Homo sapiens: one gene and its partners. The protein of the gene in region 1 purifies or fractionates together with the protein of each later gene. This does not show direct contact. Each region holds a gene or a part of one and is shown in the gene's direction. Other genes may lie near its edges. The genes, in order: EFNA3, UGGT1, POTEE, PKLR, SUMF2, KRT6A and STK33.

Region 1 (3,101 bases):
CCCCGGGGGCAGAGACAGGGCTGAGCCGCGAGGAAGCTCGGAGGAAAAGTCGGAAGGCTACGCGGACCCTGGGGAGGGGCTGCGGAGCGGTCAGATGGAAAGCGGCTTTGCTCTGGGGTTTCTTCTCTCTGAGCCGCTTCCTCTTCCCCACAGCCTGCGGCGAGAGGGCTACACCGTGCAGGTGAACGTGAACGACTATCTGGATATTTACTGCCCGCACTACAACAGCTCGGGGGTGGGCCCCGGGGCGGGACCGGGGCCCGGAGGCGGGGCAGAGCAGTACGTGCTGTACATGGTGAGCCGCAACGGCTACCGCACCTGCAACGCCAGCCAGGGCTTCAAGCGCTGGGAGTGCAACCGGCCGCACGCCCCGCACAGCCCCATCAAGTTCTCGGAGAAGTTCCAGCGCTACAGCGCCTTCTCTCTGGGCTACGAGTTCCACGCCGGCCACGAGTACTACTACATCTGTGAGTGACGGCGGCCGGGCGGGCGGGTCTGAACGCGAGAGTCTGAGTGACAGCCGGGGGGTGGAGCCCCTAGGCTCCGGGGCGGGGCCGGCGCGGCGGGCGCCAGGTCTCGCGGCTGAGACCAGGGAGGAGGCGTGGGCACGGGACGCCTGAGGGGTTCAGCTCAGACGAGGTCGTGGGGCCAAGAGAGGAGTTTGGTGACAGTCCCAAGTTTGGGCTGCGGAGAATCGCTGTTTCTGTGAGGGACATTCCGGGGTTGGAACATCAGGGATCCCAGTTTCTTGAGGGGTGGGACCAAAGGGGCGTCTAGGGCCGACGGCAGAGCTAAAGTGACCCGTGTCCAAAGGGTAGGGGAGCTCCTGAAGGAGACCGCCCGACGGGGACAGTTTGGAGGGGGTGAGAAATAGAGCCGTCGAGGGAGGGCACAGGCACACATTGGGCGAAAGTGACTCAGGCCCGGTCTCCTCCCCAGCCACGCCCACTCACAACCTGCACTGGAAGTGTCTGAGGATGAAGGTGTTCGTCTGCTGCGCCTCCAGTGAGTAGAATAGGCTCCGAGCCGCGCCCCCATCCTCAGCTCCCTGCTTTGGGGCTCCCCTGGCTTCCTGGGGGTGGGGGCGGAGGGCACAGGTGAGGGGGGCTTGCTCCCCAGCCGTAGCAAGGGGAGGGAATCCTGGCCCTGACTCTCCCCTCCTCTCTCCCCACCCGCACCCCACCCCGCAGCATCGCACTCCGGGGAGAAGCCGGTCCCCACTCTCCCCCAGTTCACCATGGGCCCCAATGTGAAGATCAACGTGCTGGGTGAGTCTGCGCAGCGCCCTCTGGTGGCCACTGCTGGAACCGCAGCCCCCCGCCCCGGTGCCTGCTCACCTCGCATGCCTTCCCTGGGGGCACTGATACTTCCTACCCTGTGGGTGGTCACGTCCCTGGCTCCATTGCTGCTGCCGCGTGCCCCTGCCCTGGCGCGCAACCCAGCCCTCACCAGTCTGTCTGTTCCTCTGTCCACAGAAGACTTTGAGGGAGAGAACCCTCAGGTGCCCAAGCTTGAGAAGAGCATCAGCGGGACCAGCCCCAAACGGGAACACCTGCCCCTGGCCGTGGGCATCGCCTTCTTCCTCATGACGTTCTTGGCCTCCTAGCTCTGCCCCCTCCCCTGGGGGGGGAGAGATGGGGCGGGGCTTGGAAGGAGCAGGGAGCCTTTGGCCTCTCCAAGGGAAGCCTAGTGGGCCTAGACCCCTCCTCCCATGGCTAGAAGTGGGGCCTGCACCATACATCTGTGTCCGCCCCCTCTACCCCTTCCCCCCACGTAGGGCACTGTAGTGGACCAAGCACGGGGACAGCCATGGGTCCCGGGCGGCCTTGTGGCTCTGGTAATGTTTGGTACCAAACTTGGGGGCCAAAAAGGGCAGTGCTCAGGACTCCCTGGCCCCTGGTACCTTTCCCTGACTCCTGGTGCCCTCTCCCTTTGTCCCCCCAGAGAGACATATGCCCCCAGAGAGAGCAAATCGAAGCGTGGGAGGCACCCCCATTGCTCTCCTCCAGGGGCAGAACATGGGGAGGGGACTAGATGGGCAAGGGGCAGCACTGCCTGCTGCTTCCTTCCCCTGTTTACAGCAATAAGCACGTCCTCCTCCCCCACTCCCACTTCCAGGATTGTGGTTTGGATTGAAACCAAGTTTACAAGTAGACACCCCTGGGGGGGCGGGCAGTGGACAAGGATGGCAAGGGGTGGGCATTGGGGTGCCAGGCAGGCATGTACAGACTCTATATCTCTATATATAATGTACAGACAGACAGAGTCCCTTCCCTCTTTAACCCCCTGACCTTTCTTGACTTCCCCTTCAGCTTCAGACCCCTTCCCCACCAGGCTAGGCCCCCCACACCTGGGGGACCCCCTGGCCCCTCTTTTGTCTTCTGTGAAGACAGGACCTATGCAACGCACAGACACTTTTGGAGACCGTAAAACAACAACGCCCCCTCCCTTCCAGCCCTGAGCCGGGAACCATCTCCCAGGACCTTGCCCTGCTCACCCTATGTGGTCCCACCTATCCTCCTGGGCCTTTTTCAAGTGCTTTGGCTGTGACTTTCATACTCTGCTCTTAGTCTAAAAAAAATAAACTGGAGATAAAAATAACTGAGTGTGTGTGATTTCAAGGGGCCATCACCCTTCTGTTACACTGGTTAAACCTCACAGGGCACAGGGCCTGAGTAGGAGAGGGAATTCTGGGGCCAAAGAGTCACAACGAGGTGTTCAAATCTTGTTCTGGGGCTCATCTTCATTACAAAGGCAGCGCTGCTTGGAAAGAGCAAGAGGGGCCTCCAGGCAGGGCCTGGTTGACTTTGGGCAAATCACTCAACCTCTCTGATTCTCAGGTATCCCACCAGAAAAACTGGTTGTGGTATCTCTCTCTTAGGGTTGGTGTAGGGATTAAATGACGCAGGGAGTTAAAGGCTCCATCAATTATGGTTTCCACCTTTTCTTCCCCTTCCATGCTGTAATTGAGGTTCTTGACTGGAGTCTATGGATTTCAGGGGATTTGAGAACCTAGACAGAAAAAAAACTATCTTTATTTTCACTTGCCTATAACTAAAATTTAACATTCTCTTGTGTGCTTGGGCAGCAAGCCATAATAG
Region 2 (3,500 bases), on another chromosome or scaffold:
CAGTTCATATGATGCGCTGTCTCCAGTTTATAAACTCATTGACTCAGGCCAGATTAAAAAAAAAAGAAAAACTCTGTAACTTTTGGGGAGAATTTTTTCTCTCAGCCACAGAGGATATATTTCCAATGTGTATTTTTGAGGCTATTTAATAACGATGATGTACTATTCTGTAATTTAGAAGATAGTTTTTTCTTACGATAAAATGTTTTACTACAACAATCAATTCTGGTATAGTACTTGGCACTTTACAAAGTGATTTTTTTATTGCCTCTTCATTTTCACATTGACCCTGTGAGGCAGATACTATTATTCCTACTTTGATAGTCTTCGAGACTAAGGGCCTGGGAAGTTAGGTAACATATATGTGGTTAAACTGCTAGTACGTAGCAAACTCAGGAATTGATCACAGCTGCCCTGATGCTAAAAGGTTCCCTTTTTTTACAAACCGTGTCTATTGTGTCCTGTAGAGCAGGTTTCTGAGGCTGCAGTCTGTGGGCCTGTGGGAAAGGGTGTCTATGGTTAGTCCTAAGAGAATGCTTTTTTTTTTTTTTTTTTTTTTTTTTTTTTGAGACGGAGTCTCTCTCTGTCGCCCAGGCTGGAGTGCAGTGGTGCGATCTCGACTTACTGAAACCTCCACCTCCCGGGTTCAAGCGATTCTCCTGCCTCAGCCTCCTGAGTAGCTGGGATTACAGGCACCTGCCACTATGCCTGGCTAATTTTTGTATTTTTAGTAGAGACGGGGTTTCACCACATTGGACAGACTGGTCTTGAACTCCTGACCTCAGGTGATCCACCCACCTCAGCCTCCTAAAGTGCTGGGATTACAGGCGTGAGCCACTGCGCTGGGCCAGTCCCAAGAGAATTCTTAAGTTGTACATAAAATTTGGGTCCTTGTTTGCTCCTCTGTGGGAAATGTCAGTAACTTTACTAGATTCCAGAAAAGGCCTATATCCTCTTCACTCAACCAGCCAGGAATCACTGCTATCAGGTTTCATTGTGTAAAATCTAGTTTGGTTATCTCTAATTTCAGTAGGTTTCATTTTTGTGTGTGTATTCTTTCATTTCTGCAGCCTCTATAGCAGTTTTTACAAACGTTGATTTTGAAAAACACTTCTGAGTGTTTTTATTTATAAGTGGGATGTTCTTCTTCTTCTCCTTCCTCTTCTTCTTCCTCTTCCCCTTCCCCTTCCCCTTCTCCTTCCCCTTCCCCTTTACCTTCCCCTTCCCCTCCTCCTTCTCTTCCTCCTTCTTTCTTCTTTCTTTCCTCTTCCTCCTCCTCCTCTTCCTCCTCCTCCTCCCCCACTCTCCTCCTGTCCTGCTCTCCTCCTGTCCCGTAACTCCTCCTGTCCCGCTCTGTTGCCCAGATGCAGCATGGACCTCCTAGGCCCAAGCTATCTTCCCACCTTAGCCTCCCAAGTAGCTGGGACCATAGGTGCATGCCACCATGCCTGGCTGATTTATTAATTTTTTTTGGTTTCCAAAGAAGCTGGCAGTGCCTGAACTTAAAATGCTTCTGAAAGCCACTTTTCTATTTGTTATAATTTATTTTGCTTTTGACCATCGTTCTTCAGAGATACTGTATGTTCTATGAAGCAGGATGTTAACACAAATGATGCTTTTTATAAAAAGCAGCTATTGACTAGTCCCCAATGTGGACAGCCTCCCTCAGTGATAGATTTTGTAACCAATATTAAAGAACTGGGATGAGACCGAAGTGAGCCTTACCAGAGCTAACATTCTGAAGCCCAAGGATAGCTTAGTGCTTCCCACATATTCACACCCCCTTTTAGTTCTCATTCAAATGGGTAGAGCTCAGGGGAGGTCCGATTAGGGTTCTGTTAGGTGGACTTTGGAGATGAAAATCAGAGAAATCTGCAGCTGGAGACCTTTTTCTGAAACTGTCTGGATGCTGTCTGAGAGGATCTTGACAGGCTTGGAGCGGCTGCGGAGGGTGTCAAGAGGCCTGCATTCTGTGGCCATCCACTTTGCCAGTGACCCTAGATCCCTCATTTTGTAGATGGGACAGTTGGCTTGGGAAGCCACTAAAATTTTACATTTCTTTATTTCAGAACCTGTCTGAGTTTACATTTGGGACCCATTATGTTAGTTTCCTAGGGCTACCACAACAAAGTATCACAAACTGGGTGGCTTAGAACAATAGATATTTACTGTCTCACAGTGCTAGAAATCCTTACTCAGGGTTTCACAGGACCACGTTCCCGCTGAAATCTTTGGAGGAAGAATCTTTCTTTGACTCTTCAGCTTCTGGTAGTTTCAGGCATTCCTTAGCTTACAGTATAATTTTAGTGTGTGCCTCTGTCTTCACCTGGTGGTCTCCTGTGTCTCTACATAGTTTTCCCTCTGTGCTGTCTTTCTCTGTCCAGATTTCTCCTCTTTATAACATCAGTCATTGGGTTAGTGCCCACCTAATAACCTTGTTTTAACTGATGACCTCTGTAAAGACTGTATTTACAAATAAGTTGACATTACGAGGTACCGGGGGATAGGATTTCCATATCTTTTTTGGGGGACACAGTTCAACCCTTAATACCTATCATTTATATTTTCATCTATCTCAGCTTTATTTGCTTTCATCCTTTATAAAATATGGTTGTGTGCAACCTGGTGTGCCACCAACTGATTTTTATACCCCTGTATGGTGTAGATTGCTTGGGAAATGAAGCAGAGCCTTTGTAGGAAAGAATGTAATAACCTAAGTGCCTTCAGTTACATATCAGTCACTCAGCAAATATCTGTTGGACTAGCTAGATATTAAGTGCTATTATATGTCAGAAGCATTTCTGTTTCGCTAACTTATGTTATTTTGTGTCTCCAAGTATTATTAGGATTGTTATTTTGTGTCTCCAAGTATGAGGTTAAAATTACCTTGTAGCAGGCCAGGCATGGTGGCTCATGCCTGTAATCCCAACACTTTGGGAGGCTGAGGCGGGCAGATCACGAGGTCAGGAGTTTGAGACCAGCCTGGCCAACATTGTGAAACCCTGTCTCTACTAAAGATACACAAAATTAGCAGGGTGTGGTGGTGCGTGCCTGTAATCCCAGCTACTGGGGAGGCTGAGGCAGGAGAATCGCTTGAACCTGGGAGGCAGAGGTTGCATGAGCCGAGATTGCACCACTGCACTCCAGCCTGGGCGACAGGGCGAGACTGCGTCTCAAAAAAAAAAAAAATTTCCTTGTAGCAAAACTTCTTTTCTTTTTTTCCTTTTAGGAGTTTGCTATAAAATGGGAGTTCTGGTTGTACTCACTGTTCTGTGGCTGTTCTCCTCAGTAAAGGCCGACTCAAAAGCCATTACAACCTCTCTTACAACAAAATGGTTTTCCACTCCATTGTTGTTAGAAGCCAGGTAAGAGAACATTTTTTTTCCCTTCGTGTATTTGAGTATAAATATAGGCTCTGACAGTGAACATTCAGGAGCTTTTTAAGGAGTGAGATTATCATCAAATGCATTTATGAAGAGCCTCTTTCAGTGTATACTGTA
Region 3 (3,500 bases), on another chromosome or scaffold:
CAGGTGGATCACGAGGTCTGGAGATCGAGACCATCCTGGCTAACATGGTGAAACCCCGTCTCTAGTAAAAATACAAAAACTTAGCTGGGCGTGGTGGTGGGTGCCTGTAGTCCCAGCTACTCGGGAGGCTGAGGCAGGAGAATGGCATGAACCCAGGAGAGGGAGCTTGCAGTGAGCCGACATCCACCACTACACTCCAGCCTGGGTGACAGAGCGAGACTCCATGTGAAAAAAAAAAAAAAAAATTTTAATAGATTCTTAAAATTTATTGTAATAAAATCAGCAACCTTATTAACAGAAGAATCAATAGATTCTAATTTAATATTTGATATTTAACTTCAACATAACCCACTATAAAATTTAAAATACTCTTATTTTAAAATATTCTTATCTGCCTTCTTGATTAGCTTATAGCTAATCTCTCCTTTTGGAATAGAGGCAAAAACAAATTTCAGAACTTTGTTTGTTCTTTTATTTTTACAACACCCTAACATGATAAAGAAAGTAACATCAATGATTGAATCATATTATTAAGCAATAGGAATTATGAACAATGTAACACTGATTCCCTGAGCTGGATTCATGGTTAAAGAGTAATCATGGCCTGTGATTGAAAATCCACAGTTTTATATTGTCAGTCACTGATACCAAGGTTAAGGACATATCCTGCCTTGTGGTCTCTCGTTGACCTCAGTGTTTCTGTTCAGGGAGGGAACCAGGTCATAAAAGCAACCCAACTGCCTATTACAAGAACCATATCTTGCAGAATGGGACCTTTGGTGTTAGTGCACAAACACAATAACATTCTAATTTATTTCAGTTGCAGAAAATCAGTAGAGATTAAAAAATTTTATCTGCTGTCATTAGTACACATTAGAATATATTAGAACTGGACTTACGCAGATAATCTGGATACATAACACTATCATATGACAGTATATAATTTCAATTAAAATGTGAGAATTTGCATTTCTTTCTGTTTGGTGTTGATTTCGGCTCCTAATAGTTTAAAGGGTGCCTACAATCCAGTTAGGAATCTTTTAAAAAAGCACTTCAGTGCACTGTAGGTGCTCACTAGTTAGGGTTTCATGAGGTAAACTCTTTTCAAGTGAGGAAGATTTTGGAACACTACAAATCATCTGCTGATTCATTTTTGGTAGATTTAACACATAACAAATTAAATTTAGTCCAAACAAATAGTGAGAAAGTTAAGTTTGCTGGTTCATGTTTTTCTTCTCCCTTTGTCTAAGGTGAATTATTTTTCACATGTTAGAAGCCAGTGATGTGGCAGTAGCTAAACATAGATTAAAAAGTTAATTCTTAATTTTAATTATTATTTATTTTAACAGTTTAATTTTAATTACTTTCTAATTTTTATTGTCCATACTTGATTACTTCAGAATAAAATTATTTTAAAAACATGCACTCCAAAAGAGGAAATGTCACAGAAATACAGCAAGCAAATTAACCTTCTGTTTTTACATCTGCAGAAAAGATCTCAAGAACCAGAAATAAATAAGGATGGTGATAGAGAGGTATACCTTTATATTCAAACGTTTGTGTTGAATTAGATTTTTACATTATGTTGTTTAACAAAGTGTAGTAAATGTAGGCATACATGATCCTATCATGTAAGTAGCATAAATCATCAGTGAAAAATTAAATAGTTAACTCAGAATTCTGTACATTGAATTTTGAAGAGGTGCAAACCCTAGAGCTATTCTTTCATTATTATGGAATAATCCCGAATGGTGCCATAAAATGCTAGGTAATGCCACTTTAGGAGCTTTAGACCAATTATTTTATCTTTCTTGGTTTTAGTCTGATTATCAATAGATAATGTGCCTAAAGTAGATAATTTCTTATTCTCTGTATTTTCCAGCTAGAAAATTTTATGGCTATCGAAGAAATGAAGAAGCACGGAAGTACTCATGTCGGATTCCCAGAAAACCTGACTAATGGTGCCACTGCTGGCAATGGTGATGATGGATTAATTCCTCCAAGGAAGAGCAGAACACCTGAAAGCCAGCAATTTCCTGACACTGAGAATGAAGAGTATCACAGGTAAGCCTATGGCAACATTGAACAGGAGGTAACTTTGTGCTGCCAAACTAATCCTAATTTGAGCTAATATTCATGATGAACAAATTTTATACTTTTATTAGGATATTGAGCCTTGCCTGTTAATCAGAAAAATGAAAATCAGCAAACAATCAGTTACCGTTTTTTTTCCAGTCATTAATTTATTTGAAAAATAACCAGTATTGGCAAATGTGAGGGAAAAGGCATTTTCTTCTCTTTTCAGTGAACTTTTATTTTAGCTTCGGGGTACGTGTGCAGGTTTATTATATAGGTAAACTGTATCATGGAGGCTTGGGGTACAGATTATTTCACCAGCCACATAGTAAACAAAATACTCGAAAGGTAGTTTTTTGGTCGTCTCCCTCCTGCCATGCTCCTCCCTCAAGTAGGCCCCAGTGTATGTTATTCTCCTCTTTGTGTCCATGAGTTCTCATGTTTAGTTCCCGCTAATGAGTAAGAATATGTGGCATTTGATTTTCTGTTCCTGCATGAGTTTTCTTAGGATAATGGCCTCCAGCTCCATCCGTGTTGCTGCAGGGGAAATGGTTTCATTGAAAAAGACATTTCATATACTGTTGGTAAATACATTTTGAACATTAATTGAGTAGCATATTCACACACACATATATAACAGTAAGCATATATAATACATGTAAAGGATATTTGTATAGATATGTTATATGTATACTTATGTATAAGGACATTTATTATAGTATTATGTAAAAAATTTGGAGCTAGTCTAATTCCTTATCAATAGGAAATAGCTCAATTTCCATATCCCCAAAATAATGTATTATGCAACCATTTTTAAAAAATGAGGTTAGATGTAGGGTATACTGATTATTTCACAATTAAAATGTATTTAAAGCGTTTAGTTTGATGACACATCTTAAGAGTTCTTGTTAAAATTCTTGTAATATCTGCTGTGTTGCAAATGGAAGCTACATGCTACATTGACACTGTACCTTGTTAGCAACAAGATTGCTAGTTACTAAATTTTTGTTGTCAGTGCCTGAGTGCTGAAATATTGGACCCTCAATCTGAATATTGCCAAGCGATTGTACATGGGGATCTATATTTAATATAAACATTTCAGTATATTTGGTAAAACTTTTATTAAAATACATCAAAGAATCTTTGATCTACTAAACCAGGAGTTGGCCAGCTTTTTCTGCAAAGAGCTAGTTAGTAAATATTTTAGGCTTTGTGGACTACATATATTGATTTTCTTGAGACAGGGTCTCACTCTGTTTCCCAGGCTGGAGTGCAGTTGTGTGATCATGGCTGACTGCAGCCTCGACTTTCTGGGCTCTAGTGATCCTCTGACCTCAGTCTCTACTAGCTGAGACCACGGGTGTGCAACATCACACCCAGCTAACTGACACTATGGACTGTAAAGTGAATAAGCATGGCTGTGT
Region 4 (4,059 bases), 210 kb from region 1:
CTTTAAAAAAAAAAGAAAGAAAACAAGGCTGGGCATGATGGCTCACACCTGTAATCCCACCAGTTTGAGAGGCCGAGGCTGGTGGATACTTGAGGCCAGGAGTTGGAGACCAGCCTGGACAACATGGTGAAACCCCATCTTTACTAAAAATACAAAAATTAGGCCAGGCACAGTGGCTCACACCTGTAATCCCAGCACTTTGGGAAGCTGTGGCGGGCAGATCACCTGAGGTCAGGAGTTCGAGACCAGCCTGACCAACATGGTGAAACCCCGTCTCTACTAAAAATACAAAAATTAGCCAGGCGTGGTGGTGCATGCCTGTAATCCCAGCTACTCAGGAGGCTGAGACAGGATAATCGCTTGAACCCAGGAGGCAGAAGTTGCAGTGAGCCAAGATCACGCCACTGCACTCCAACCTGGGCAACAGAGTCAGACTCAGTCTCAAAAAAAAAAAAAAAAAGAAAAGAAAAGAAAAAAGAAAAACAAAATTAGCTGGGTGTGGTGGTGCACGTCTGTAATCCCAGCTACTCGGTAGGCTGAGGCAGGAGGATCGCAGAGGTTGCAATGAACTGAGATTGCGCCACTGCACTCCAGCCTGGGCGACAGAGTGAGACTCTGTGAAAAAAAAAAGAAAAAAAAGAAAAAAGAAAAAGAAAAAAGGAAGGAAGGGAGGGAGGAAAGAAAATTTCCCTGGGGGTAGGAGTCTATAAGTTTAGCAAAATAGTCGATCTTTCAGTGTTTCCAGCAACAACCTAATCAAGTTTATCAGTGTCTGAGAATGTTCAAGGTACCATCTTGGGTTCAAACATGTAGGCGAAAACATGCAGCTGGCCAGGTTACAGAGTGGTGAAGGCACTCTGCATTTCTTGGTTGAGACAGAGAAAAAAAGTGGTCAGAACTGGGTAACCCTCCCCCCACCATATTATCACAGTGATCCCTTTTGTCTTTCTTCAGGCTCCAGCCCCACCCTACAGCCCCTGCTCCCTGGATTCACTAGAGCTAACTTCAGTAAAGTACAAAGAAAATGGGGCCATATGACTGGCCAAAAAAAAAATATCTATTCACGTGGATGACCAGATAGTATGAATGGATTGAAAATTTATCAGGAAAAAAGGATGAGAGGAAATGCCAGGAGATGAGGGCAGAGAGCAGGCCGTTCTGGGGGAGGGATTCTGTGGGGACAGGGTGGCCTACTGGGTGTGCCCCTTTTCTCTTCTCTGTCTCCCTTAGATAAGACCAGCAGTTTTGTCATCCTCTCCCTCTCATTCCATGGTCCCGCAGCCCCAGGCCCACACTGAAAGCATGTCGATCCAGGAGAACATATCATCCCTGCAGCTTCGGTCATGGGTCTCTAAGTCCCAAAGAGACTTAGCAAAGTCCATCCTGATTGGGGCTCCAGGAGGTAAGAAGGGGAGACAGAAGCCATGGAACATAGGAGGAAAATGAGGGTGAAAACTAGGAGCCAGGGTGGAGGGCATAAATGATCCACATCAGCCACTGGCTAGGTGGGTTTTGGAGAGGAACGTACGTTCTTCAGAGCCTCCCGTGTGTTAAATTATGGACCCTGGCCTGGGTCTTTTCCAGGCCCTATAGGCAGGCCAGAGCCACAGCATGTAAGCCACGGGGCACTCCCGTGGTTCCTGGACTCTGGCCCCTGGCATACAGGGCTTCCAATGGAACAGGAGACAGTGGTGACACTTTAACCAGTCTGCAGAACTGATCCCCAGCCCAGCTGGGCCTCATGCCTCTGACAACCCAACAGTGTGGAGCAGACCCACAGAGAGGGAGACCCAGAGAGGTGTGCAGTGGCATGGAAGGTGCGGCTGGAATCGGGGGCTCCTCTGAACTGGGATGGGTCAAGCTACAGGGACCTCTGTGTCTGTAGCAGCTTTGAGAAGCCTGGGGAGACTCAGAGGATGGGGTGGGGAAGCCAGCCAGTAGCCAGGGGTTGGAAGGGAGAAAACAGAGACCTTTGGAGCAGGAACTGGGTGATTCTGGGTCTGCATAGGGTGAGGCTGCTGGGGACTAGACATCAAGGGGTGGTGGGGTTGAGGGTCATCAGTAGCTGCAGGTCGGGGGGTCCTGGGTTGTGCGGGGTCAGTATAACTGAGTGGTCAAGAACTTGGGCTAGAGTTAGTCAGACCTAGATTTGAATCCTAGCTGATCCATACTTAGAAGCTGTATAATATTGGACCATTTATTTCCTGTTTCTCAGCCTCTGTTTCTTTATCCATAAAATTGGATAATTATAGAACATTTAACAGTACCTGCTTTATAGGATCCTTGTGACATAATAAAATAATATATGCATGATGCCCAGCTCATAAGAAGGGAAGGAACAGAGGGTATGCTGAGAGACGAAGGCATGGGGAGGAAGGGCAGGTGACATGCAGTCCCTGAGCCCCCTTCTACCACAGGGCCAGCGGGGTATCTGCGGCGGGCCAGTGTGGCCCAACTGACCCAGGAGCTGGGCACTGCCTTCTTCCAGCAGCAGCAGCTGCCAGCTGCTATGGCAGACACCTTCCTGGAACACCTCTGCCTACTGGACATTGACTCCGAGCCCGTGGCTGCTCGCAGTACCAGCATCATTGCCACCATCGGTAAGCACTCCCATCCCCCTGCAGCCACACAGGGCCTATTGGTATTTCTTGAGGTGCTTCTTCATCTTTTGTCTCCTTTGAGACTTCTCCATGTTTGACACAGTCATTCATTTAACAAAAATTTGTTGAGCATATAGTAGACAAGATTTTGGGCCCTGGGAGTAGATCAGTGAAAAAAACAGACAAAAATCCCTACCCTTGGGGAGCTGACAGTCTAGCTGAGTATGACAATAAATAGTAAGCACAATAAATTATTTAAAATAAGTAAATTATTTATTCCGTTAGAAAGTGAGGCCGGGCATGGTGGCTCATGCCTGTAATCGCAGCATGTTGGGAGGCCCAGGTGGGCAGATCACTTGAGGTCAGGAGTTCGAGACTAGCCTGACCAACATGGAGAAACCCCGTCTCTACTAAAAATACAAAATTAGCCGGGCATGGTGGTGCGTGCCTGCAATCCCAGCTACTCAGGAGGCTGAGGCAGGAGAATCGCTTGAACCCAGGAGGCGGAGACTGTGGTGAGCCGAGATCACACCATTGCATTCCAGCCTGGGCAACAGGAGAAAAACTCCATCTCACAAAAAAAAAAAAAAAAAAAAAAAAAAAAAAGTGGGCTGGGCTCAGTGGCTCATGCCTGTAATCCCAGCACTTTAGGAGGCCAAGGTTGGCAGATCGCTTGAGCCCAGGAGTTTGAGACCAGTCTGGGTAAATGGCAAAACCCATCTCTACAAAAAATACAAAACTTAGTTGAGTGTGGTGGTGCATGCCTGTAGTCCCAGCTACTCAGGAGGCTGAGGTGGGAGGATCACTTAAGCCCAGGAGGTCACGGCTGCAGTGAGTCATGATCGAGCCACTGTACTCCAGCCTAGGTGACAGACGAGACCCTAGAGAGAAAGAGAGAAAGAAAGAAAGAAGGAAAGAAAGAAAGAAAGAGAGAGAGAAAGAAGGAAGGAAGGAAGGAGGGAGGGAGGGAGGGAAGGAAGGAAGGAAAGAAAGCAAGCAGGCAAGAAAGAAAGAAAGAAAAGAAAGAAGGAAGGAAGGAAGGAAGGAAAGAAAGAAAGAAAGAGAAAGAAAGAAAGAAAGAAAGAAAGAAAGAAAGAAAGAAAGAAAGAAAGAAAGAAAGAAAGAAAGAAAGAAAGAAAGAAAGGAGTGAAAGTTGGCCGGGCATGGTGGCTCTTGCCTATAATCCCAGCACTTTGGGAGGCTGAGGCAGGTGGATCACCTGAGGTCAGGGGTCCGAGACCAGCCTGGCTAATGTGGTGAAACTCTGTTTCTACTAAAAATACAAAAAATTAGCCAGGCATGGTGGCATGTGCCTATAATCCCAGCTACTCGGGAGGCTGAGGCAGGGGAATCGCTTGAACCCGGGAGACAGAGATTGCAGTGAGCCAAGATCACGCCATTGCACTCCAGTTTGGGCAACAAGAGCGAAACTCTGTTTGTTTGTTTGTTTGTTTTTAAA
Region 5 (3,442 bases), on another chromosome or scaffold:
TCTCTACCCCTCGTACATCCAGGAACACTGAGTTTCAAAGAAGGATAGGGGAATATCAGGGAAAGCGCTCAGCAGGCCTGTTTCACCTGCCCGAATCCTGTTTCCTGTTACCCATCCATTTCTCCCTTCAGCCTCCTGTAGTCTCTTTTTTCTGACTCCGACCACTGGTCACTCACCCGGCTCTCTTCCAGCTCTCTTGCTCCATCTAGTGGTAAAAGCTGAACGCGGGCGCCCTAAACCTAGCCTGCCTCCGACTTAATGCGCTCCCGGAAGCCTGTCTCACTTAATCCTGGCTGTCAGCCTGCAGGTCCTGGCTCTGGCATCCGAGAGAGACTGGAGCACCCAGTGTTACACGTGAGCTGGAATGACGCCCGTGCCTACTGTGCTTGGCGGGGAAAACGACTGCCCACGGAGGAAGAGTGGGAGTTTGCCGCCCGAGGGGGCTTGAAGGGTATCCAGATGATAAGGCGATTTTCCTTTATTCTTCTCCCCATCCTGCCCAGCATGAGGGGCTTTAAAGGGTGGAAAGGGGCTGGGCGCAGTGGCTTATGCCTGTAATCCCAACACTTTGGGAGGCTGGGGCAGGAGGATCGCTTGAGGCCAGGAGTAAAAGACTAGCCTGGGCAATATAGGGAGACCCTGTCTCTCCGAAAAATACAAAAATGAGCTGGGCCTGGTGGCATGTGCCTGTAGTCCCAGCTACTCAGGAGGCTGAGGTGGGAAGATCCTTTGAGCCTAGGAGTTCAAAGCTGCGGCGAGCTATGATCGCACCACTGCTGTCTGGCCTGAGTGACAGAACAAGACCCTGTCTCAAAAGAAAAAGCGGGGGGATGGGGCAGGAAGGGTCTGTGTTCCCTAGAGCAGTGCTTCTTAAGCTATCTGTGGTGGAGGACCAGTGTTTTTTTTTTTTTTTAATTTCTAGTCCATCTCAGACTGATATAAAATACCATAAAAATTAATAACTGGAAAATTGAAAGAACAGACATAAAATATTTTATTGGAAATTCCACAGACATGTTACATTTCAATAAATATAACTAGAGCAACATAGCATAAGGAAAAAGAATTACCAAGACTACACACTTCTGCCTCTGGGGTACAGAGATTAATGTTAAGAGTCACTGTTTGCGGCCGGGCGCAGTGGCTCACGCCTGTAATCAAAGCACTTTGGGAGGCCGAGGTGGGTGGATCACGAGGTCAGGAGGTTGAGACCATCCTGGCTAACACAGTGAAACCCCGTCTCTACTAAAAATACAAAAAAAAATTAGCTGGGCTTGGTGGCGGGCGCCTGTAGTCCCAGCTACTTGGGAGGCTGAGGCAGGGGAATGGCGTGAACCTGGCAGGTGGAGGTTGCAGTGAGCCGAGATCACGCCACTGCACTCCAGCCTGGGCGACAGAGTAAGACTCCGTCTCAAAAAAAAAAAAAAAGAATCACTGTTTGCTCCTAACTCGGTCATTTGTCATTCTGCAATCCTAATTACACAAAAAGTTAGGACAGCAAAAAGCAACTCCGCACATTAAACCCCTCTACACAATCTTTCAGTGAACACCAGGTACATCAGTGATCAAAGTTTTTTGTTTTTTGTTTTTTGTTTTGAGACAGTCTAGCTCTGTCGCCCAAGGCTGGAGTACAGTGGCACGATCTCAGCTCCCTGCAACCTCCGCCTCCCGGGTTCAAGGGATTCTCCTGCCTCAGCCTCCCTAGTACCTGGGATTACAGGCACCTGCCACCATGCCCGGCTATTTTTTTTTTTTTTTTGAGACAGAGTGTCGCTGTGTCGCCCAGGCTGGAGTATGGTGGCGCGATCGCGGCTCACTGCAAGCTCCGCCTCCCGGGTTCACGCCATTCTCCTGCCTCAGCCTCCCAAGTAGCTGGGACTACAGGCGCCCGCCACCTCGCCCGGCTAATTTTTTGTATTTTTAGTAGAGACGGGGTTTCACCGTGTTAGCCAGGATGATCTCGATCTCCTGACCTCCTGATCCGTCTGCCTTGGCCTCCCAAAGTGCTGGGATTACAGGCGTGAGCCACCATGCCCTGCATAATTTTTGTATTTTTAGTAGAGACAGGATTTCACTGTGTTGGCCAGGCTGGTCTCGAACTCCTGACCTCGTGATCCATCTGCCTCGGTCTCCCAAAGTGCTGGGATTACAAGTGTGAGCCACCGCGACCAGCCAGTGATCGAAGTTTTTAATATGACCTGTGAGGTTGCCTCTGGCTCATTCATTTATGCAATCTAAGTCCAATTTCAAGTTTCTCGATTTCTGTACTTTTCTCAACATGAACTGATAACAGATGCTTTATAAACTGGCTCAGGTCCCAGAACCATGCTTAGGATTACATTGCCCTGGAGCACATGAGGAGGCCAGGGCCCTCTAATGCAGTTCAGCGAGTGGAGAGGATGGGCATGGCAAATAAAAGCAGGTCATTCACTCTTTTTTCTCATCACCCTCTAACTTCCTTTTGATTCCCTCACTCTTTCTGTGTTCTTTTTTCCTTCCCTAATTCTTCACCTCCCCCTCCTCTGCTGCCTCCTTGCTCTCCTCGCAGGTCAAGTTTACCCATGGGGGAACTGGTTCCAGCCAAACCGCACCAACCTGTGGCAGGTAAGACCTACGTTCCTCCTTTCACCAAGCATTGACAGAGACCTGCTGGAGGCTGGGCACTGTGTTGTTAGGCCGCGGCATCCAGAAGGCTTGGGTTCTAATGCAACTGATGACTCATAAGCTGGTAAAGCAAAAGACAATGGGTCATAAGTGCTTTCTTTTTTTTTTTTTTTTTGAGACAGAGTCTCTCTCTGTTGCCCACGCTGGAGTGCAGTGGTGCGATCTTGGCTCACTGCAACCTCCGCCTCCCAGGTTCAAGCGATTCTCCTGCCCCAGTCTCCCAAGTAGTTGGGATTACAGGTGCCTGCCACCATGCCCAGCTAATTTTTTTGTATTTTTAGTAGAGATGGGGTTTTGCCATGTTGGCCAGGCTGGTCTCAAACTCCTGACCTCAGGTGATCCACCCGCCTTGGCCTCCTAAAGTGCTGGGATTACAGGCATGAGCCACCGTGCCCAGCCAGCGTAAGTACTTTCTATTAAAGAGTTGTAGGGCTGGGTGCAGTGGCTCACGCCTGTAATCCCAGCACTTTGGGAGGCCGAGGCGGGTGGATCACCTGAGGTCAGGAGTTCAAGACCAGCCTGGCCAATATGGTGAAACCCTGCTTCTACAAAAAATAAAAGATGAGCTGGGCATGGTGGCATGCACCTGTAATCCCAGCTGCTTGGGGCTTGGGCAGGAGAATCACTTGAACCCAGGAGGCGGAGGTTGCAGTGAGCTACCACTGTACTCTAGCCTTGGCGACAGAACGAGACCCTGCCTCAAAAAAAAAAAAGTGAATAAAAAATAAAACTAAAATAAGCAAATAAAAAAGCACTGTCCTGAGAAGGCCAGCAGGAA
Region 6 (3,582 bases), on another chromosome or scaffold:
GCCATAATGAGGATGGTCTGTGACTCCAGTGTTTAGTATCCACCAACCACATAATATCAACTTTTCCTCAAGTTTCTTGAGGAGAAGCCTTTAGGTCCACTTCATGACATGCATGATACACAAGTGAAAGTCATCGCTCCCAGGTAAGAACCCGTAGACACTGTCTCTCTCTCCACCTCTGGGCTGCAGTACGAGGAGCTGCAGGTCACAGCAGGCAGACATGGGGACGACCTGCGCAACACCAAGCAGGAGATTGCTGAGATCAACCGCATGATCCAGAGGCTGAGATCTGAGATCGACCACGTCAAGAAGCAGGTATGGTGAGGGACAATGGAGGAGAGAAGCATTTCCTTGTCAGGTCGTCAGGCAGCCATCAACCATTATATTAGGGAAAATCCCCTGGAACTTATCAAAACCAGGGAGAGGAGGCTATCATTTCCTACCCTTAGTGGGTACCTGCTGCTTAGGAGACATAGATCCTACCTATGGCATGACACAAACACATGAGAGAACCAGTCACGATGCTCAGAGCTGCAAAAACATGGTTTAGAGCAGGAGTGTCCAGTATTTTGGCTTCCCTGGACCACAGTGGAACAAGAAGAACTATCTTGGGCCACACATAAAATACACTAATACAAACAATAGCTGATAAGCTAAAACAAAACAAAACAAAACATACAGCCTTGTCCAGTGGCTCATGCCTGTAATCCCAGCACTTTGGGAGGCTGAGGCTAGTGGATCATGAGGTCAGGAGTGAGAGACAAGCCTGACCAACATGGTGAAACGCCGCCTCTATTAAAAATACATAAAAATTAGCCGGGCATGGTGGAGCGTGCCTGTAGTCCCAGCTACTCAGGAGACTGAAGCAGGAGAATCGCTTGAGCCTGGGAGGTGGAGGTTGCAGTGAGTCGATACCGCGCCACTGCACTCCAGCCTGGGTGACAGAGCAAAACTCTGTCTCAAAAAGAAAAAGAAAAAGAAAAAACCCTCATAATGTATTCAGAAAGTTTAAGAATTTGTGTTGGGCTGCATTTAAAGCCATCCTGGGCTGCATGTGGCCTGTGGGCTGTAGGTTGGACAAGCTTGGTCTAGAGGAATTGGATTTATTTCCATAGGAAGACTGACTTGGAAACTGCAAAGGAACAAATTGAAAAAGAAAAGGGCAGATAAGAAAGCACAAGGAACATTGTTTCAAATCTGCTCAAGACTCAAGGTGAAAGAGAGAGTAGAGGAAGGGCAAAGGACAAAGAACAGTAGATGAGAGATTCTGAGGGGGAGGAAGGCAAGGTCTCAGCAGTCTCATGTGAAGACTCATCACCTCACTTCAGGATGGTCTTAATTTTGTGTATGTTAGTGTGGCATCTATATGAGGTAATCATAAGTGGTCTTGATTTGACTGTGGAGACAACACTCCAAACAAACCAGCAGGTACATTTCTTCCAGTGTATGTGTCCACTGCAGTGTCTCCCATTAGTAAATATCCACATTCTCCCACAGAGTGGTTCACAAAAAGGGTTATGAGTTTTTGTCAAATGAACCAGACTGGACAAAAACTGCAAAATAAAAAAAAAAACAATAGATAGGAAGAGTCAGAGCTCATTCACCATCAATTCTGGGCTCCTGGCCCCTTCACTAGGAAATAACCAGCCAGGTTTAGTCTCCTCTGGAAGACCGGATGACAAGTTTCTTCTATTCCTTTCCTCTTCCAGTGCGCCAACCTGCAGGCCGCCATTGCTGATGCTGAGCAGCGTGGGGAGATGGCCCTCAAGGATGCCAAGAACAAGCTGGAAGGGCTGGAGGATGCCCTGCAGAAGGCCAAGCAGGACCTGGCCCGGCTGCTGAAGGAGTACCAGGAGCTGATGAATGTCAAGCTGGCCCTGGACGTGGAGATCGCCACCTACCGCAAGCTGCTGGAGGGTGAGGAGTGCAGGTGGGTAACTGACACGAACTCCTTCAACAGCTGAGTCCATCTTCAAGGTTCCTGGCACTGAGCACAACTTTAAGGTGCACTGCCCATGGCCATAATTGCTCTTCCTGAGAGAAAACTAAAAGAGCAGTTTCCCATGGACTCTTCCACCCACCGAGGCTGCCCACGCTGGTCCAGGGAAGGAAGAGCTCTCTGAGGTCTCACCCTCCCTGTGTTCCTCTCCACAGGCTGAATGGCGAAGGCGTTGGACAAGTCAACATCTGTAAGTACCTTTGCTTGCCTTCCTCCCCTGCCCTCGCACTCTTCTGACTGGGCTCAGGCTGACAGGATGAGCTCACCATGGCTTCTTGTGTCCTTGTCCCCTCCCCATCACAGCTGTGGTGCAGTCCACCGTCTCCAGTGGCTATGGCGGTGCCAGTGGTGTCGGCAGTGGCTTAGGCCTGGGTGGAGGAAGCAGCTACTCCTATGGCAGTGGTCTTGGCGTTGGAGGTGGCTTCAGTTCCAGCAGTGGCAGAGCCATTGGGGGTGGCCTCAGCTCTGTTGGAGGCGGCAGTTCCACCATCAAGTACACCACCACCTCCTCCTCCAGCAGGAAGAGCTATAAGCACTAAAGTGCGTCTGCTAGCTCTCGGTCCCACAGTCCTCAGGCCCCTCTCTGGCTGCAGAGCCCTCTCCTCAGGTTGCCTTTCCTCTCCTGGCCTCCAGTCTCCCCTGCTGTCCCAGGTAGAGCTGGGTATGGATGCTTAGTGCCCTCACTTCTTCTCTCTCTCTCTATACCATCTGAGCACCCATTGCTCACCATCAGATCAACCTCTGATTTTACATCATGATGTAATCACCACTGGAGCTTCACTGTTACTAAATTATTAATTTCTTGCCTCCAGTGTTCTATCTCTGAGGCTGAGCATTATAAGAAAATGACCTCTGCTCCTTTTCATTGCAGAAAATTGCCAGGGGCTTATTTCAGAACAACTTCCACTTACTTTCCACTGGCTCTCAAACTCTCTAACTTATAAGTGTTGTGAACCCCCACCCAGGCAGTATCCATGAAAGCACAAGTGACTAGTCCTATGATGTACAAAGCCTGTATCTCTGTGATGATTTCTGTGCTCTTCGCTGTTTGCAATTGCTAAATAAAGCAGATTTATAATACAATATATTCTTTTACTTTGCCTTGCTTTGGGGCCAAAGTTTTGGGCTTAAACTTTTTTATCTGATAAGTGAATAGTTGTTTTTAAAAGATAATCTATTCTTTATACACATAACTCCCCTCCTTTAGAGAGGTTCATCAAACTTCAGCTTGGTATCATGACATTCAGAGTGTATTTCTAGATCAAATTCCATATGAACTTTTGGCAAATGGAGTGGGAGGCATCTGGTCCACCAGCATTGTCCACTCCGTTTTAACTGACCATACCAGGAACTAGCATCCCATTCCCTCTGCCTTGGTTTCCAGGACCACTTTTCCCCTTACGCCAGGGCTCAGCCTAATTGTCCAGTTAAGAAACATATTCTCGGCCAACTAGAGCAAGTTATTTGACAAAAGAATCAGATATGTGATTAATCATTATAATTGCCCTCATAAGCAAGAAACTTGCCTGACAACATGTATCAAGCACAATTAAAATGTGCATACACTGAACCGTAATTATACT
Region 7 (3,500 bases), on another chromosome or scaffold:
CCTTTCCCAAGAAGAGGCCTTAAGATTTTCCCTACAGCCTCATGGGAGAAACAGGAAGGGCCATGTGAACCTTTCCACAAAGAAAAGATGATGATCTTCAAGGGAAGAAAGAACTTTTCATCTTTTTTTTTTTTTTTTTTTACCTTCCATTGAAAACTCCTCCCTCTGGAATTGTGATCCAGTTGAGCCGTGGCTTGTTCAGAACTCCTTTTCTTGGAGTGGAATGATAGGGAGGTGTGCCTCGTGTTCTTTCCAGAGGTTCAAGCGTGCAGTGTGGAAAAGCTTAGGATTGGTGAGCTCAGGCTCACCTGGGTTCAAATTTTGGTCCTGCATTTCTAGCTTTGGTTCCTTTTTCTATAAAATGGGGCTTATAATTACAATTTCCCAGAATTCTGAAAAGCAAATATCATAGGTAAAGTGCCTAACAAATATGTAGCCCTTCAATAAATACTAGTTTCCCATCCCATTGAAAAATGTTTTCAAATTTTCTAATAAATTTGTATAAATGCAATTAAAAAAACTCCATAGAGTCTTAGAGTTTGAAGGGAGCTTCATACTTGATGTCATAAATAATACTTTGCTGAATCTGTTATAGCTCTTTTCATGTTTGTTCGCTTAATTTATTGTTTTTGTTGATCACCTACTGTGCATCAGACACCATTCTGTCTGTCACAAATCACTGAGGGAGAGATGCCAGATACACATGACACACAGCCTGGCATGCAGTTGCCACTGCACTCATCCTCACTTCCCTAATTTGAGTCATTCACTTACTAAATTATGAGCCAGATACTATGCTAGGTTTTTGGGATACAAAGATAAAAAGATACACTCCATGTCGAGCTCATAATCTGTTGTGGAGGGAAACAAGCTAATAATTTTTTTTTTTTTTTTTTTTTTTTTTTTAGACAGAGTCTTGCTCTGTCACCCAGGCTGGAGTGCAGTGGTGTGATCTTGGCTCACTGCAACCTCCACCTCCCGGATTCAAGTGATTCTGCTGCCTCAGCCTCCCGAGTTACTGGGATTACAAGTGCCTGCCAACATGCCCAGCTAATTTTTGTAGTTTTAGTACAGACGGGGTTTCACCATGTTGGCCAGGCTGGTCTGAAACTCCTGACCTCAAGTGATCCACCCATCTTGGCCTCCCAAAGTGCTGGGATTACAGGTGTGAGCCACTGTGTCCAGCCCAAGCCAATAAATTATAATCCCCTGAGGCAGGTGCTATAACAGACACATTGGTTGGTGTGAAGGGAGATGGAGGAGAGCACTTCTGTGTCTGCTTGGGGGAAGTCAGGGAGGGATGAGCAAAAGGGAAGAGGAAGCTGAGGCAGAAGGAGCAGCAGACTCAAAGGCCTAGAGGTGGAAAAGCATGTAAGTCTTAGAGGAAGTTGAGATCTAGAAGAATAATGGCAGACAATGACTGGACAGGCTAGCATGCCATTTTACAGAGACCCTGTTATGCCAGGTTGGGTTGGGATTTGAAGTCAGGTGTTTTTTTTTTTTTTTTTTTCCGAGATAGGATCTGGCTCTCTTGACCAGGCTAGAGTGGAGTGGCACGATCTTGGCTCACTGTAGCCTTTGCCACCTGGGCTCAAGCCATCCTCCCATCTCAGCCTCCTGAGTAGCTGGGAGCACAAGCATGCACTGCCACACCTGGCTAAATTTTTTGTTTTTTGAGATGGAGTTTTGCTCTTGTTGCCCAGGCTGGAGTACAGTGGCGCAATCTTGGTTCACTGCAAACTCCACCTCCCAGGTTCAAGCGATTCTCCTGTCTCAGCCTCCCAAGTAGCTGGGATGATAGGTGTGTGCCACCACACCTGGCTAATTTTGTATTTTTAGTAGGACGAGGTTTTACCATGTTGGTCAGGCTGGTCTCGAACTCCTGACCTCAAGTGATCTGCCCGCCTTGGCCTCCCAAAGTGCTGGGATTACAGGTGTGAGCCACTGCACCTGGTGCTAATTTTTAATTTTTGTATTTTTTGTAGAGACAGGGTTTTTGCCATGTTGCTGAGGCTGGTCTTGAACTCCTGGGCTCAAGCAATCTGCCTGCCTCAGCCTCCCAAAGTGCTTGGAATACAGGCGTGAGCCACCAAGCCCTGCCTGAGGTCCATTTTGTTGGATAAGACAGAAACACAATTTGTAGTTAATTAACATCTGTCTTGGACTTGCTCTTCTTCTAACGCTAGCTTAAAAAAATCATTTTTGGCTGGGCGCGGTGGCTCATGCCTGTAATCCCAGCACTTTGGGAGGCTGAGGCGGGTGGATCACCTGAAGTCAGGAGTTCGAGACCAGCCTGGCCAACATGGGGAAACTGCATCTCTACTAAAAATACAAAAATTAGCCGGGTGTAGTAGTGGGCGCCTGTAGTCCCAGCTACTCAGGAGGTTGAGGCAGGAGAATTGCTTGAACCTGGGAGGCAGAGGTTGTAGTGAGCCGAGATTGCGCCACTGCACTCCAGCCTGGGTGACAGAGTGAGACTCCGTCTCAAAAAAAAAAAAAAAAAAAATGCTGGGTGCAGTGGCTCACACCTGTAATCCCAGCATTTTGGAAGGCCACGGCAGGTGGATCACCTGAAGTCAGGAGTTTGAGACCAGCCTGGCCAACATGGTGAAACCTCGTCCCTAATAAAAATACAAAAATTGGCAGAGCTTGGTGGTGCATGCGTGTAATCCCAGCTCTTTGGGAGGCTGAGGCAGGAGAATTACTTGAACCCAGGAGGCGGGGGTTGCAGTCAGCTGAGATCGCACCACTGCACTCCAGCCTGGGGGACAGTGATACTCCATCTCAAAAAAAAAAAAAAAAATCATTTTCTTTGTCTTTTGTCTGTAGCATTTTCTCTAAGAATCTGCTATTTTGGGATTTTGCCTTCCTCATTGTCTTCATATAGCATCCTGTCTAGATTAACTGCCTGTTTACCTTAGGGTTATGACCTTTCACTTCATGGAGAGCTCCCTCTGTGGCTGTATGCTTTGTCTGAAAGGGTCTATCTCCTGTTTGCCCTGGCACTTGGTAACAGAAAAGACCTTTCCTATTGGATGGCTGAGACCTAGTAGAGAGAGAGCTGTTGGAGAAGGGCCAGGCATAAGGAGGAAGGCGCCTAAACCAGAGGTTTATCCTCTGGTGTTGCTGACGTTGGCATTATCATAGTCTTGCTCTGATCATTGCCCATAGTCTCTCACTGATTGGCTTGCTCCAAGGCTGTGTCTCTCAGGCCTCTCTTGCCCTGCCTTATTTGTGTTATTAATAACTGAAAGTTGAGGAGTGGCCCAGCAGCTCAGGAGTTCTAGTCTTGTTGAGCAGCCATCCTTAATGTATCCAGTTAACAGTATTCATTCTCTCAAGACACAGTCCAGGCTGGCACTTCAGACATGAAGGAATATGTATGAAGTTCCAGAGGTCACTTATGTAGGACTTTGTTCTGGAATCCTCCCTACATTATGAATCATTGAAGGACCCGGCCTTGAAAGAAGATTGGTTAGAGGTGGGAAGGGAGGGTATGA

The links.
Region 2: the proteins of EFNA3 (region 1) and UGGT1 purify together in Homo sapiens (affinity purification with mass spectrometry, with the first as the bait; one study listed by BioGRID). This does not show direct contact.
Region 3: the proteins of EFNA3 (region 1) and POTEE purify together in Homo sapiens (affinity purification with mass spectrometry, with the first as the bait; one study listed by BioGRID). This does not show direct contact.
Region 4: the proteins of EFNA3 (region 1) and PKLR purify together in Homo sapiens (affinity purification with mass spectrometry, with the first as the bait; one study listed by BioGRID). This does not show direct contact.
Region 5: the proteins of EFNA3 (region 1) and SUMF2 purify together in Homo sapiens (affinity purification with mass spectrometry, with the first as the bait; one study listed by BioGRID). This does not show direct contact.
Region 6: the proteins of EFNA3 (region 1) and KRT6A purify together in Homo sapiens (affinity purification with mass spectrometry, with the first as the bait; one study listed by BioGRID). This does not show direct contact.
Region 7: the proteins of EFNA3 (region 1) and STK33 purify together in Homo sapiens (affinity purification with mass spectrometry, with the first as the bait; one study listed by BioGRID). This does not show direct contact.

What each region holds. Positions count from the first base shown.
Region 1 is NC_000001.11:155,084,938-155,088,038, forward strand, and holds the end of EFNA3 (ephrin-A3 precursor), read left to right. Parts: intron 1-153; coding exon 154-467; intron 468-939; coding exon 940-1,005; intron 1,006-1,190; coding exon 1,191-1,268; intron 1,269-1,475; coding exon 1,476-1,606; 3' UTR 1,607-2,601; downstream 2,602-3,101. Other genes in the region: EFNA4-EFNA3 protein precursor, read left to right, coding at 154-467, 940-1,005, 1,191-1,268, 1,476-1,606. UniProt on the Homo sapiens protein: Cell surface GPI-bound ligand for Eph receptors, a family of receptor tyrosine kinases which are crucial for migration, repulsion and adhesion during neuronal, vascular and epithelial development.
Region 2 is NC_000002.12:128,094,200-128,097,699, forward strand, and holds part of UGGT1 (UDP-glucose:glycoprotein glucosyltransferase 1 precursor), read left to right. Parts: intron 1-3,229; coding exon 3,230-3,365; intron 3,366-3,500. UniProt on the Homo sapiens protein: Recognizes glycoproteins with minor folding defects. Reglucosylates single N-glycans near the misfolded part of the protein, thus providing quality control for protein folding in the endoplasmic reticulum.
Region 3 is NC_000002.12:131,251,036-131,254,535, forward strand, and holds part of POTEE (POTE ankyrin domain family member E), read left to right. Parts: intron 1-1,490; coding exon 1,491-1,535; intron 1,536-1,882; coding exon 1,883-2,064; intron 2,065-3,500.
Region 4 is NC_000001.11:155,298,639-155,302,697, reverse strand, and holds the start of PKLR (pyruvate kinase PKLR), read left to right. Parts: upstream 1-1,259; 5' UTR 1,260-1,302; coding exon 1,303-1,402; intron 1,403-1,745; exon of another isoform or gene 1,746-1,810; coding exon of another isoform or gene 1,811-1,817; intron 1,818-2,417; coding exon 2,418-2,600; intron 2,601-4,059. UniProt on the Homo sapiens protein: Pyruvate kinase that catalyzes the conversion of phosphoenolpyruvate to pyruvate with the synthesis of ATP, and which plays a key role in glycolysis.
Region 5 is NC_000007.14:56,074,286-56,077,727, forward strand, and holds part of SUMF2 (inactive C-alpha-formylglycine-generating enzyme 2 isoform b precursor), read left to right. Parts: intron 1-300; coding exon 301-451; intron 452-2,548; coding exon 2,549-2,604; intron 2,605-3,442. UniProt on the Homo sapiens protein: Lacks formylglycine generating activity and is unable to convert newly synthesized inactive sulfatases to their active form. Inhibits the activation of sulfatases by SUMF1.
Region 6 is NC_000012.12:52,486,676-52,490,257, reverse strand, and holds the end of KRT6A (keratin, type II cytoskeletal 6A), read left to right. Parts: intron 1-189; coding exon 190-315; intron 316-1,709; coding exon 1,710-1,930; intron 1,931-2,154; coding exon 2,155-2,189; intron 2,190-2,302; coding exon 2,303-2,538; 3' UTR 2,539-3,082; downstream 3,083-3,582. UniProt on the Homo sapiens protein: Epidermis-specific type I keratin involved in wound healing. Involved in the activation of follicular keratinocytes after wounding, while it does not play a major role in keratinocyte proliferation or migration.
Region 7 is NC_000011.10:8,584,229-8,587,728, reverse strand, and holds part of STK33 (serine/threonine-protein kinase 33), read left to right. Parts: intron 1-3,500. UniProt on the Homo sapiens protein: Serine/threonine protein kinase required for spermatid differentiation and male fertility. Promotes sperm flagella assembly during spermatogenesis by mediating phosphorylation of fibrous sheath proteins AKAP3 and AKAP4.